Homo sapiens: one gene and its partner. The protein of the gene in region 1 purifies or fractionates together with the protein of each later gene. This does not show direct contact. Each region holds a gene or a part of one and is shown on either strand. Other genes may lie near its edges.

The links.
Region 2: the proteins of FRMD4B (region 1) and RNF146 purify together in Homo sapiens (affinity purification with western blotting; one study listed by BioGRID). This does not show direct contact.

Annotation. Positions count from the first base shown.
Region 1 is NC_000003.12:69,180,089-69,183,588, forward strand, and holds part of FRMD4B (FERM domain-containing protein 4B), read right to left. Parts: intron 2,630-3,500; coding exon 2,510-2,629; intron 1,623-2,509; coding exon 811-1,622; intron 1-810. UniProt on the Homo sapiens protein: Member of GRP1 signaling complexes that are acutely recruited to plasma membrane ruffles in response to insulin receptor signaling.
Region 2 is NC_000006.12:127,276,864-127,280,363, reverse strand, and holds part of RNF146 (E3 ubiquitin-protein ligase RNF146), read right to left. Parts: intron 134-3,500; 5' UTR 26-133; coding exon 24-25; intron 1-23. UniProt on the Homo sapiens protein: E3 ubiquitin-protein ligase that specifically binds poly-ADP-ribosylated (PARsylated) proteins and mediates their ubiquitination and subsequent degradation. May regulate many important biological processes, such as cell survival and DNA damage response.

The sequences.
Region 1 (3,500 bases):
ATGAATACTGAATTACAATATGCATGGCCAGGCACTGCGGCTCTCACATGTAATCCCAACACTTTGGGAGGCCAAGGCAGGAGGGTTGCTTGAGGCCAGGAGTTTGAGACCAGCCTGGGCAACATAGCAAGACCCAACCTAAGCCTCCTTGTTTCTACAAAAAAAAAAAAAAAAAAAAAAAAGCAAATTACTTAGAACAGTGCTTAATCAATGCCAGCTCCTATAAGGATTCTTACGAGCCTTATGCAGGCACTTGCCTAAGTACCTGCATAATCCCAGGCTTGCATTCAAAGCAGTCCTTAGATGATCAATCTTGGTGGTGAACCAGGAGGGATGTATAATTCTAATGTTTTCTGCTTACCTGAGGGTTTATTCTTTTAAAATATCAAGCCTCAATGACGTGAACACATTTAAGAGATGTGCCTGTCAACGTAAATCCTAAAAAGACAAAGCAAGTGAAACCCCTAACACATCCCAGCCTAGGCGACAGAGTGAGACTCCTTCTCAAAAACAAAAAACAAAAAACAAAAAAAAACCCTAAAACAGGGCAGCACAGAGAGTAAATGCTCAATCAATGTTTGCTGGATTTGAATCTACAATTTGCTTCATTAGACTCATGTGTACTGAGTTCTTTGGAGAGCTGGAAAGAACTGTTTTTAAGTTGGAAATTCTTATTGTGGGGTTCCACCGAATGGTTGCCCCACTTTTGACCCTGAGTACTGGTCTCATGATCCGTGAGGCGGTTTTAGGTGGGCAGGAAACACGATGTAAATAAAATCCAGGTGTTGCGTGTTTTTACAGTATTCTCACCTGAAGAGTACGAGGATGCACGACTGCTTGGAGAACAAGGTACTTGCAGCCCCGCAAACCCCAGGCATCTCTGTGATCCCCTGTCTGAGTCAAAGCTGGTCTGCGGGCTGTGTCCCTGATCCTTCTGCCCAGAGGCCCGCTGGTACCAGCCACGCAAGTGCTCGGCAACTAAGGCCTTGTGGATGTTTTTGGTGATGTGCTCCGATTTTGCAGCAGCCTTCCTTGGCAGCCGGAGAGTTGCATATGGGTTATGGGGTACCCGGTCGACCTCATCTTCGTGAAAGGATCTGCTGTAGTCCCTCTGGCGCTCATATCCATAGTGGGCTGAGGACCGGTAGGAAGGGTTGACACTATACTGTCCCTCGGTGTCATTCTCATAGACATAACCACCACTGTAATAAAAGTCACACTCTGCATAGGGTGTGTACCCGGCAATGTAGTAACTGGAAGACGGTGGCTCCTGACTCTTTGAGTAAACACCATTCCTCAAACTATCCTTTTGTGCTAGGTTGGGCATGCTTCCTGAATTTGAAGTAGAAACATTCTGTTTCTTTGACCTCCTCCGACCCCTGGTGCGAGTGTCCAGGGTCTGGGTGGTGTAATAGGGGCCGGTAACTGGTGTCACACAGTAATACTCTGTGCTTGATTGGCTTGTATAAGAAGACCCGTCATCGAGGATTTCTGTGCTGCTGCTTCTTTGGGATTTGGAGAGGGAGAAAAATGGCTTATCGCTGTCCATCTCGGAGAGCAGGTGGGACTGGGACTCCAGGCTTCCACTCCGCTGGCGGCAGTGCTGAGATGAAGATTCGGGTCTGAAAGAGGAGAAAGGCAAACTTCTCAACACCAAGAAGAAAAGGAGGACCCAAATAAGAAAAAAGAATAGCATGCTGAATGACTGAATAGCTCGTGAATTACAATAGGACTTTGAGTTGCCAAAGCTGACTGCACAATAGAATCCATTGTTCTCCAAATCTGTTGGCTCACATGTAGGTTCATTTTGACCATGGTCAAAATGAGAAAAGAGCTGGCTTCTGTTAGTTGCGCAAGCCAAATCCTTCCTTGAGGGTAGGGAAAGACACAGACTGAGGATGCACAGTTTGCATCACAGCCTGGAAAAAAAAACAAAAACAAAAACAAAAAACCCAACGTGTCTTTGGAGGGTCCTGTCTTCCTAGAGGATATGAAGATATGGTACATTCGAGTGGAGGTCAGAGGTGGCTGGGCTGAGTCATGGCACTGCTATTTCCCAGCTGTATGAGCTCAGGCCAGATATTTAACCTCTCTGAATCTTGCTTCCTCCTTTGTAAGATGAGGATGAAAACAATATATAATATCTACCTCACAAAAGGCTTGCTGTAGGGACTAAATAATCCAGTGAATATAAAACATTTAGCACAGCACTCACAAACATTTCAAAATGTTGCTATTGTTACTAACTTCATCCTCACCATTGAATAATGAATGGTAATATGTGACTGGGGAAATTAAGGTACTAAAAATCTAATGTATATTTGAACAAATCAAATACATTTTCTTTGCCAACATATTTGAAACCATAAGTTAGCAGAAAATGTAAAACCATAAAACAAGGTCCTGCTACAGAAAGTCACTTGAAATGATTAAAAAACACAATAAAGCAAGACAGAACCTCAAAGCAAAAATCAAGACAGCTAAAGCAATGAGAAAGAAGCTCTCTTACTCCAAGTGGCTGCTGCTGTAGGCGTTTCGGGTAAGAACTGGCGTGGTGGGCATGCTTCGTCCTCCCTGGGGCCGCCTCTCCAGAGTTTTGTAAGGGCTGCTGTGTGTGGACAGCATTTCTCTGTGATGATAAAAAGAAGAATTCAGGAAATGATGAGTCTCTCAACATCTCTGGCAAACTTGTCATAAGCAGATACAAAACTTACTAGAAGCCCAAGGAAAGGGAAAATAGGGAGAAAGATAGGAAGAGTGTCTTTGTGGTTCACTAAACCACAAAGAAAACCCGCTAAAACAGCGGGAGCACATATGGTCTGACTTTCTGAGTCACAAATATGTAGGGAAAAAAAGGACTTTTAATAAAGAGTACACTGAATAAAAAGACTCAAAGCAACTAGAGCTGTTTATGTAGGCACCTGAACATTCAAAACAGTCCTTAGATGATCAAATCTTTGTGGTGAACAGGGATGGATGTATAATTCAGCAAACTCCTTTTTTGTAAACAGTCTAGAATACTAAATAGCTTTTGGCTTTGTGGGCCAGATGGTCTCTAGAGCGACTACTCAGCTCTGCCCTTTCAGTGCAAAAGCAGCCATGGATAATATGTAAGAGAATGGGTGTGGCTGTGTTCCAAGAAAATGACCTATGGATGCTAAATTTCATATCATTTTTACAGGTTGTAAAATATTATTGCTTTTGATCCCCCCACCACCAGCTACCTAAAAATATAAAAACCATTCTTAGCTCACGGTCTGCGCAAAAACAGGCAGCAGGATGGATTTGGCCACTGGACTGTTGTTTGCTGGTCCCTGGACTAAGAACAACAGCTTTAAGTCACTATGTCTACTTCCCAGCATGGTGACAACACAATTAGAAGTTAATTTTTTTTTTTTTTTTTTTTTTTTTTGAGACTGAGTCTTGCTCTGTCGCCCAGGCTGGAGTGCAGTGGTGTGATTTTGGCTCACTGCAAGCCCCGCCTCCTGGGTTCACGCCAT
Region 2 (3,500 bases), on another chromosome or scaffold:
AAAAACCATGATGCTACACTTACATTTCTATTACAGATCCCACAGATGCCTGCCACAAAAATAAAGCATTTTCTTCACCAGCAGTCAGCCAGCTTACAGTATTTTCTCTTCCACTGCTGGTTCATTCTTTGTGCTGCAAAAGAAAAAAAGAGTAATTAAGATCAAGAGAATCAGTTAATTATGTATAATCCTTTCAAAAAATTCAGTGGAAAACTTTATCTTAAAAGTGGGAAAAATTAAAGACAAGATGCATGCTTTTACCACTGCTATTCAACATGACTGTAAGTTCTAGCAGAGCAAATTAGGGAAAAGAGATAAAGGCATACAGACGGGTAAGGAGGAAGTAAAACTATGTCTATTCTCTCTAGATAGAAGATCTCATAGAATCCCCAAGAAAGCTAATAAACAAATTCAGCAAAGTTGCAGGTTACAAGTTTGACACACAAAAAAATCAGTTGTGTTCTGATACACCAGGAGACAACAATCCAAAAAAGAAATCAAGAAAACAGTTCATTCATAAAGTAACTAAGGGAATAAAATAGCCAGGAATCAACTTAACCCAGGAGGTGAAGGACTTGTACACAGAAAACTATAAAGCATTACTGAAAGAAATTAAAGAAGAGCTAAGTAAATAGACAAGTGATGTATGGATTGGAAGACTTAACATATTAAAATGACAATACTACCCAAAGTGATCTACAGATTCAACATAATTCCTATCACAATTCCAACAACCTTTTTTGCAGAAATGGAAAAGCAATCCTCAAATTCATATGGAATTGCAAAGGACCCTAAGTAACCCAAACAATCTTGAAAAATCCAATGTCAAAACTTACTACAAAGCTAAGGTAACAAGACAGTTTGGTGCTGGCATAGGACAGATAAATACACCAATGATATAGAATTGAGAGTCCAGAAATAAACTCATACATCAATAGCCAACTGATTTTCCAAAAGGGTGTCAAGTCTACTCAATGGGGGAAAACAGGCACCTCTAACTAATGTTGTTGGGACAACTGGATTTCCACATGCAAAATAATTAAGCTGGACCTCTACCGTATACTATATATAAAAGTTAACTCAGAATGAATCAATAACCTAAATATAAGAAATAAAACCATAAAACTCTTAATAGAAAACACAGGAGCAAATCTTCATGGCCTTAGATTTGCAATGGATTCCTAGATATGACATCAAAAGCATGAGAAACATAGGAAATAAATTGGGCTTTATATAAGTTTAAAATTTTTGTGCATCAAAAGACACTGTTAAGAAAATAAAAAGACAAACTGCAGAATGGGAGAGTATCTTGGCAAATCATGTATCTGATAAAGGTTTAATATCCAGAATATGTAAAGAACTGCAGCTCAACAACAAAGACAAACCAATTAAAAAGTGAGCAAAAAATGAGTAAAGAACTTAAAGAAGATACACAAATGGCCAATAAACACACAAAAAGATCCTTAACATTATTAGTAATTAGGGAAATGTAAATCAAAATCACAATGATACATCTATAAGGAGGCTACAACTTTTTTAAAGGGAAAAATAATAAGTGTTGGTGAGGATGTAGAAAAATAGGACCTTTGAAAACTGCTGGTAGGAAGGTAAAAGGGTGTAGCTGCTGTGAATAATAATTTGTTGCTTCCTCAAAAAGCTAACACAGCAATGCCACTCCCAGGGATATAGCAATAGAATTGAAGAGGTTCTCAGACACTTGTATGCCAATATTCACTGCGGAAATATTAGGCAAAAGGTGGACACAATTCAAGTATCTACCAACAGATGAATGGATAAACAAAATGTGGTCTATAAATACAACAGTACATTATTCAGTAATAAAAAGAAATATGTGCTACAATATAGATGAACCTTGAAAACATACTAATAAGCCACATACAGAAAAGTATGATTCCACTTACATGAAATATCAAGAATAGGCAAATTCATAGAAGCAGAAGGTATCAGAAGTTACCAGAGAGTGAAGGAAGGAAAGTGGAGAGTTATTGCCTAATGGGTACAGAGTTTCTGTTTGTAATGCTAAAAAAAAGTTGTGGAAAATCTATAATGGTGATAGTTGCATAACATTGTAAATGAAATTAACTACATGGAATTGTACTCTTAAAAACCTGTACCATCTCAGTCATTAATCTTCTTTCTTCTCATTTAGTATTTCCATCTCCACCTCACCATGTCCACTACAGGACGCACATCATATTACACAGAATAATCAAGAACACATGATAACTAAAGAAATGATAGATCTCACAGTAAACACAAGATAGAGGAGACTTCAATCTTCTTTTATTTCCATGTGGCTCTCATACTATGGGCATCTATCTCCCTACGGTATCTTAAGATTCTAGTGTTTAAAGAAACATATTCTTAATGCCATTATGTGGCCCCTAAATACAAGCTGACTTATCCTACCAAATGTTTAACAGAACAAACAATTTGTTTTAAAATCAGAGAACTTTCAAAAGTAACTGACTGTGATGGTTAATACCGAGTGTCAACTTGATTGGAGTGAAGGATACAAAGTATTGATCCTGGGTGTGTCTGTGAGGGTGTTGCCAAGAGATTAACATTTGAGTCAGTGGGCTGGGCAAGGCAGACTCACCCTTAATCTGGTGGGCACAATCTAATCAGCTGCCAGTGAATATAAAGCGGGCAGAAAAATGTGAAAAAGAAAGATGGGCCTAGCCTCCCAGCCTACATCTTTCTCCTGTACTGGATGCTTCCTGCCCTCGAACATCAGACTCCAAGTTCTTCAGTTTTGGGACTCGGACTAGCTCTCCTTGCTCCTTGCAGACAGCCTGTTGTGGGACTTTGTGATCGTGTAAGCTAATACTTAATAAACTCATATATATATTCTATTAGTTCTGTCCCCCTAGAGAACACTGCCTAATATACTGACTAAACAAGGTTTCTAAGTAACCTTTTTGTTTTACTCTGACTTTAGATGAAATGGACTCCACTATTTTGACTTTCCTCTCAACCCTTTCACCAACTTCAAGGAGCCTACAACTTCAATGGCATCAAAGAAGGCTATGTTCATTTCCTTGCTGCAGCCTACGCCAAACAGAAAACTGCACATTTTCATACACTCCCTATATATAGGACAGGAGGAGACAATTTACTGCTCCAACATCATTACTTTTTCTTTCAAGTCTCTATCACACTGACTTTAACATACCCCATAATCCCCTAAAACTGCTCTCTCACCACCTGTAAGGGATTAATGTCATCTTTTCACTACTGATCATCCTCTTCATCCTAACTCCTGACATGACTATCAGCCTATTTAAATAGCCTTGAAAATGAACCATCCAACACCTATTGCACAGGTTCTTAAACTTGTCCCAACTTCTATTCATCAGAATCACTGAAATTGCTTGTTAGAAATACATATTCTCAGCCCCTTTCCTTAGAAATTCTAGGCCAGTAGACATAGGTTTAAACCTAGGAATCTCACCCCAGGTGGTACTCATGCTTTAGTC